Linked DNA regions of Homo sapiens. The protein of the gene in region 2 purifies or fractionates together with the protein of the main gene of each other region. This does not show direct contact. Each region holds a gene or a part of one and is shown on either strand. Other genes may lie near its edges.

Region 1 (3,501 bases), on a different chromosome or scaffold from region 2:
AAAATGGTTAAGGAGGTCGATTATATGTTATATATATTTTACCACAATTTAAAATAAAAAAATATGTAAACCACATACAGACACCAGAAGAAAACTTTTATTTTGAGGAAAATTAAAGGACTGACAGTGAGTTTTGAAAGAGTGAATTTTTCTCATTCCCACTGTCGCATGAGGCCCCACTGGCACACAGAATGTGCTGGCGTCTGGCAGGCACTGCTTTTGAGGGGGTGCTCCCCACTCTTCACAACACAGGAACAGGAGGCAGGCAGGCCATAGGGGAACTCAGGGACCTGGGTCAGGCCAGAAAGCAACAGTGAAAAGAAAAGAGAAGTGAGAGTTGCACAAAGAACAAGGATGGGTGAGGGTGGTGGATGACACACGCCACCTCCCATCCACCCGCGGGGTCCAGCCCCTAACGGTGCCCAAAGGCAGTGTCTACAGAGCGGAAGCCACCTCGTGGGGCTGACAGAGCTCAGGCAGAGTGGGGGACCCACAAAGGAAGCAGGAAGAAAATCACCCAAGGCCCAAGTCAACCCAGGTCCACAGACACTTCCTGGCACTTCCCTGCTGCGGGCCTGGTGAAGGGAGTTGAGCAAGGCCCGGTCCAGCCCTGCAGGGGCCACAGCTACAGACAGCCCTCAGGGGCCAGGGAGAACGAGGCCCAAAAACCAGGCCCAGTCTAACCCTGCCCACATCTGACCTGGCATTCTCCTTCCTGTCTCCTAACCACAGCCCACAAGGTCCCACATGGCCCCGCCCTGCCAACCTCTCCACCCTCCCTCCCAGCCCTGCTGCCCTGGCCAAACGTGCTGCCTTTGCGCACTTCTGACAAGCTCTATCTCTCCTCCGGCCCTTTGCACTTGCTGTCCCCTCCAACTCAACCCCACTCCACTCCTAGTTCGACTCCCAGGAGGCTTATGCTGAGCGCCCTCCCCAAAACACATTCCATGCCTTGCAGTTCTGTTTCCTTCAGGACTTACTCCTGCCTCACATGCATCCACAGATCTCATCTTAATTAACCGTTTAACTCCGGCAATCAACTGTGAGTCCCTGAGAGCAGGGCATCTCCTGCTGCTTCACTGTCACATCCCAGGACCTCAAGTAGTGCCTGGCTCATAGTAAGAGTCACAGACAGGTGGGTGTGGTGGCTCATGCCTGTAATCCCAGCACTTTGGGAGGCTGAGGCGGGTAGATCACAAGGTCAAGAGATCTAGACCATCCTGGCCAACATGGTGAAACCCTGTCTCTACTAAAAATACAAAAATTAGCTGGGTATGTGCCTGTAGTCCCAGCTACTTGAGAGGCTGAGGCAGGAGAATAGCTTGAACCTGGGAGGTGGAGGTTGCAGTGTGCCGAGATCGTGCCACTGCACTCCAGCCTGGCAACACAGCGAGACTCCATCTCAAAAAATAAAAAGAGTCACAGACATTTGTCACCTCTTATTCAGTGACTCTCCAGCCCTCCTCGGTGAAATATGTGTCGTCCATCAGTGCTTGTCCCCTGGTGCTCAGGCAGGACGGGTCTTCACCGTGTGCCCTCTCCCAGGCCCTGCGGGAGCTCTGGTTTCTCCACCCCACTTTCTAACTGCCAGAAATGCCATCAAATAGGCCCAGATGATAACGCAATCGACCAAAGCCTGTGACTCTAAGGCCAGGCATAAGGAAGGAGACAGAGATTTGGCCTAGGTGTGTGGGGATGCAGCATGCACACAAATTGAGTGGTACAGGGGAAAACACTCTCAACGAAAAGAGCAGAAGTACAGGTGTGGGCTCAGGGAAGGCCAAGTGAAGGAGGTACAGAAGAGCAAACTGGGGGCCTCCCGTCGAATTCAACTCCCTCTTTTGGGTTGTTTCCACTTTGTGAATTTTTTATTTTGACTATGGGGCAACTTCTTACAGGCCCTGTTGCCTCACCTGTGCAAGTTTCCAGCATGTGACCTGCTGACGTGCCCGTCCCAGAGGCTCAGGGTCCCTGAGCCCAGCAGAAGCCAGCTAGGCCAGATGACACTCTGACTTGGCTCAGCGTGCATCCCTCACCCTTAGTGCCCAACTTCACCCACGAAGGCCTGTGAGGGGATTTGCTGCAGCTTCCCCTGCTGGGGCAGGGAGAGGGACCCAGGACATCCACACGCAAGGGTAGTGCTGGCCTCTGGCCTCCCACAGTCACCCCTCAGCAAAGAGGGACTCCCCAGGGGTCATCTGAACTGCCTGGGGTACAGCATGCCCCAAGGCCAAGCTCCACGGCATAGGGACCAGTGCCCTCCCTGGCCCTGAAAGGACTCCCATCTACCTGTTTGAGAATCCTTACACCTGTGACTGAGAAGTGCCCCAGACCACATAAGAGAGGGTGTACCCTGGTGCAGGACCAGGCCTGGCACACGTGTTAGATGGCTCCAAGGTGCCCAGGAGAGACTGTCAGGGGCAGGAAAGGAGAAGTCTGTGAACAGCTTGGTATGGCAGTCACTGTGCATGCTGTGTCTGGATGTTGTTCACCAGGCAGGTCCACATCCCCTCCCCACCTCAGCCAGGGGAGCTGCAGGTCGTAATTCAAAACAGAGTGTCTCCGCCAGAGGCCCGGGAGGTCGCACAACATCCCCTTCCCCAGGGGAACCAATGGCTGCCTGACAGTGGGTACAAAAGCTCAAAGCTTGGTCTCTTCGCCTGAAGGCAGGACAACCTGCAGGCAGCCTCCCTTCCCTATCCAGCTGCCCAACAGAGCACTTTCTCTGTAAACTAGGGCAGCAGAATCCTGCCTCAGGCTCCACCCCTGGGAAACCAATCTGAGCCACTCACTTTCTCCAAGACAGCGCCCCCTTGCTGGAGCACCCAGAATACCCTGGGACTCCATGACAGGGAAAGAATCAATGAGGAGGCAACTTCAACCCAGCAGAAAGGTGCTCAGACACGGAGCCCTCAGGAAGAAGCAACAGAGCAGTGCTTGGGCTTCAGTGCTAGCCAGTGTTGGCAGGGGAGGAGGTTCCCGAGGTGCCCAAATAACCAGGTTCAAGGCAATGTAAGAAAGGAGCTAGGAGAGGAAACATAAGTGACCGAAAAGAAACCAAAATGCTGCCTGTGATTGTATTACAGCTGGAAGATTATGGCATGATTTCTTTTTCGTCTGTTCTCCCAGTTTTTGATATGAGGTCGTTTTGTATATACCTTTAAAAGGAGCAAATGTAATATACTTTATGGAACACTTTCAATAATGCAAAATATCTAGAAGGAATCAGGAACTTGTCACAAAACCAGTGCTGGCTGGGTGCAGTTGGAGAGAATTAGAGCCTGGCAAATTAGCCAGAGGCTGCCAGTCCCCAGGTCTAATGGCGTGGGACAGGGAGGGGTCCCAGCAGCTCCTGCTCCAACTCAGTGTCCATCGCTACAAGACTTCCCAGAGATCACTTCCCCTTCTGGAGCTCAGGTTTTCCTATATGAAACACAGGCTGTTTAAACTAGGTGACCTCTAAGGTTCCCCTGGCCCGAAAACTGTCCAATTTTGATGTTA
Region 2 (3,501 bases):
ATAACTATCATTTTAACATACTCCTTGGGTAAATAAAATGCATTTCAACTAGCCTCCCACCCTCCATTAATTCAAAGTGTATTGTAATTATCACATGTATTTGGACTTCAACCATTTTATAAATACTTGAAGCTACTGAGATCAATTTAACTATACTAACAGAGCTGGTAAACAACTACAAGAGTTCATCAATAAGCATAACCCTCTTAACAGTCACTTTACTTAAGCTGTCTATAGGTATGCTATGTAAGACAAACAATATCAAATTTCACCTATAACTGTAGGACATACATGAGTGCTATTTTTATATTATTTTAAGTTACTTTTTTTTCAGTTAAATGTACAGGACCAGCTGGGACTCAAAACTTTAAAAACAGCAAACTGGACCAAAAAAATAGAACAACAGAGAAGAAAATAATTAGCAAGGGAATGTCTTAACATATAGACTAGATCTCTTCTACAGCACATAAACTTTTCTAGACTTACAAAAAAAAAAAACCCTGATATGCCCATTATTATCTATTATCTCTAAAAACAATCCAACTTCTCACTTGGCAATCAATAACTATATTTAATTTCCTTCATGCAAATTCTCCCCCATCATGAAATAAAACATTTAAAATATTCATGACACCGAGCACAGACTTCATAGGTTACTTAGATTTAAAATGATTATGCACACATTATCATAATCCAATTCATAATGAATGTACAAGAACTTTGACACGTACTGCTTTACTGGCTCCGACTGAACACAGCATAGAAGAGTCAGGAGAGAATGCACAGCTGTACACCCAATTCTGATGCCCCCTCAATACTTTCATCATGTTTCCTGAACAAAAAGAAATAATCTGTATTAACCCTAGAATCCACTTCAAATGAGCAGTATTTCAAAACAGCAGTAAAGCAAAGGATCACAAACATTTATAGCTGAAAGCAATTTATCTATAACAAGGGTTACCGATATACACCAGCTGCTTAGGTTTTAAATTTTACTGGAACACAATCCTGTCCATGTGTTTATGTTGTGCTCTACAGCAGACAGCATGGTTCACAAGCCTCAAATATTCAACATCTAGCCCTTCAAGAAAAAGTCTGGGGCCTGGCGCGGTGGCTCTTGTCTGTAATTCCAGCACTTTGAGAGGCTGAGGCAGGTGGACTGCTTGAGGCCAGGAATTTGAGACAATCCTGGCCAACAGGGTGAAACCCATCTCTACTAAAAAACATTAAAAAATCAGCCGGGCATGGTGGCGCATGCCGGTAATCCTAGCTACTTGGGAGGCTGAGGCACAAGAATTACTTGAACCTGGGAGGCAGAGGCTGCAGTGAGCGGAGATCACGCCGCTGCACTCCAGCCTGGGCGAAAGAGCGAGACTCCATCTCAAAAAAAAAAAAAAAAAAAAAAAAAAAAGACAGAATTCTTTTAGTCCAATCCCCTTATTTTAAAAGTTAAGCAACTGGAACACAACAGCAAGGTTAAGAAACTTGACCATCTTCAAAATGCCTTTTCATTCTTCATTTTTGAGAACCTACAACTCACTCCAAAGTCCTTGTGTATTATACCCACAGCACACAACTATGCTTAAGTATACTGAACTCTTAGTTTTACAAATACTTACTGAGTGCCTACGCATGCCAGGCCCTATGCCGGCACTGAGGATATAACTGGAAATAAGGCAAGGACCCCACTATCTTGGAGCTTATATTTTACTAAGACTATGTTCTTAAAACATGTACATTGCTGAAATTAGTTTGAGATAAGCAAGCATCATTCGATATGCAAAATAAAAAAATTATTAAAATATTTCAACTGTTGGCATCCCTTTGCACCTCAACAGCTGAGCAGATAAAACACAGAGAAGGTCCTTCATGATTTGTTAATGTTAGCATAGAACTTTATTAAGGAATGGTTACTATCTATCAGCTGGAACATCTCCAGATCTGAGGGTTTTGTTTCCTACTAATTCAATTTAAGCTTTATTACCCCTAGGCAAGCCTGTTAACCTCCAGCTTGAGGCTGTTAGAGCACCAACAGACCTTACATTTAAGGTTTTAGTTAAACATATAAACTCTTTCATTAGGGACTGAGAAAGGGAAGAGATGCTCATCTCAAATGAGGTAGCATCTCCAAAACTTTGTAAGGCTTTAGAGAAAGGTGAGTACTTGACACCAACGTATCTTTCTATTGTATTGGACAGTAAATCTTTCACTTTTTATAAAAGCACTTCTTAACCTAGCCAATTTAACGTTTACTAATATTCACATGTTATAAGTTCTGGTATGTAGGTCATGTTTCAATTTAAATTTTATTAGATACTAAGTTACTTCAAGACCTACCTAAATTTTCACTCAGCCAATACAGTAAGTTAATAACCCTCCCTAAGAGGACATAAACACAGACTGGTTCCTGTAAAATCCCAAACCTGATCCATATTTGGTCCTCAGATAGTTGATACAGATTTATGTGGTTAGTTTCTGAATAATATCAGATCATTTACTTCGAATAACTGTTGGCTCCTATTCTGGGTCACATTTATGTTTTTCTTTGATCTATTCAGGAAAGGAACCTAAGTGTTAAGGCAGAGAAAAGGAACTTTGATCACATGTCATTTTTAAAGTCAAATGCCCCACATGTTCCCAATACCTCTCCATAGTAGTATCAAGAAACAAATCCTAGTTCATAGCTTGGAAAAAAGACATACCATCATCTTTCAGGTCCCATACTCTGAGAGTTTTGTCTCTTGAAGCTGACACCAGGATCAAGCTTCCATCTGGAGCAAAAGTTAAATCTCTGACCACTTCAGTATGATCTACCAAGTTAAGGAGGAGTTTTCCTAAATATGATAGAAAAGGGAAAAAAAAGACAGTATTAATATATTTTTGTTTTGTTCTTATTTTTCTTGAGACAGGGTCTCACTCTGTCACTCAGGCTGGAGTGCAATGGCGTAATCTTGGCTCACTACAGCCTCGACCTCCTGGGTTCAAGCAATCCCCCTACCTCAGCCTCCGAAATAGTTGGAACTACAGTTACAAGTCACCACGGCTGGCCTTTTTTTTTTTTTTTTTTTTTTTTTTTTTGGAGAGATGGAGTCTCACTATGTTGCCCAGGCTGGTCTAAAACTCCTGGGCTCAAGTGATCCCCCAGCTTTGGCCTCCCAAAGTGCTGGAATTACAGGCATGAACTTTAAAATATAAAATCAAATTATTTCTTTGCTTGTTATTTCCCTGGCCTAGGAATGTTAAGCTCCTCAAAAGATACAAGTTATCCCACAACTTTAGTTTTCAAACATGATCCCAGTGAAAAAAAATGTATTTAACTAATAATGTAAGAGCTTTGTTTTCTAAGACAATCTATGTGTTCATCTTGTTTTTTTCAAGAACCCAAATTTTGACTCATTATCACCTATGTTAGTATCACTTGTTATGTTCTAATGTACATGTTCTTTTAATGCTTCTTTAAAAATCCTTTATGTTTTTGAGTACATATTATATGCCAGAAAG

What was found. Proteins that work in one complex are often made in the same cells at the same time.
Region 1: the proteins of WSB1 (region 2) and NUP210 purify together in Homo sapiens (affinity purification with mass spectrometry, with the first as the bait; one large-scale study listed by BioGRID). This does not show direct contact.

Annotation. Positions count from the first base shown.
Region 1 is NC_000003.12:13,413,823-13,417,323, forward strand, and holds part of NUP210 (nuclear pore membrane glycoprotein 210 precursor), read right to left. Parts: intron 1-3,501. UniProt on the Homo sapiens protein: Nucleoporin essential for nuclear pore assembly and fusion, nuclear pore spacing, as well as structural integrity.
Region 2 is NC_000017.11:27,304,113-27,307,613, reverse strand, and holds part of WSB1 (WD repeat and SOCS box-containing protein 1), read right to left. Parts: intron 2,835-3,501; coding exon 2,703-2,834; intron 833-2,702; coding exon 732-832; intron 1-731. UniProt on the Homo sapiens protein: Probable substrate-recognition component of a SCF-like ECS (Elongin-Cullin-SOCS-box protein) E3 ubiquitin ligase complex which mediates the ubiquitination and subsequent proteasomal degradation of target proteins.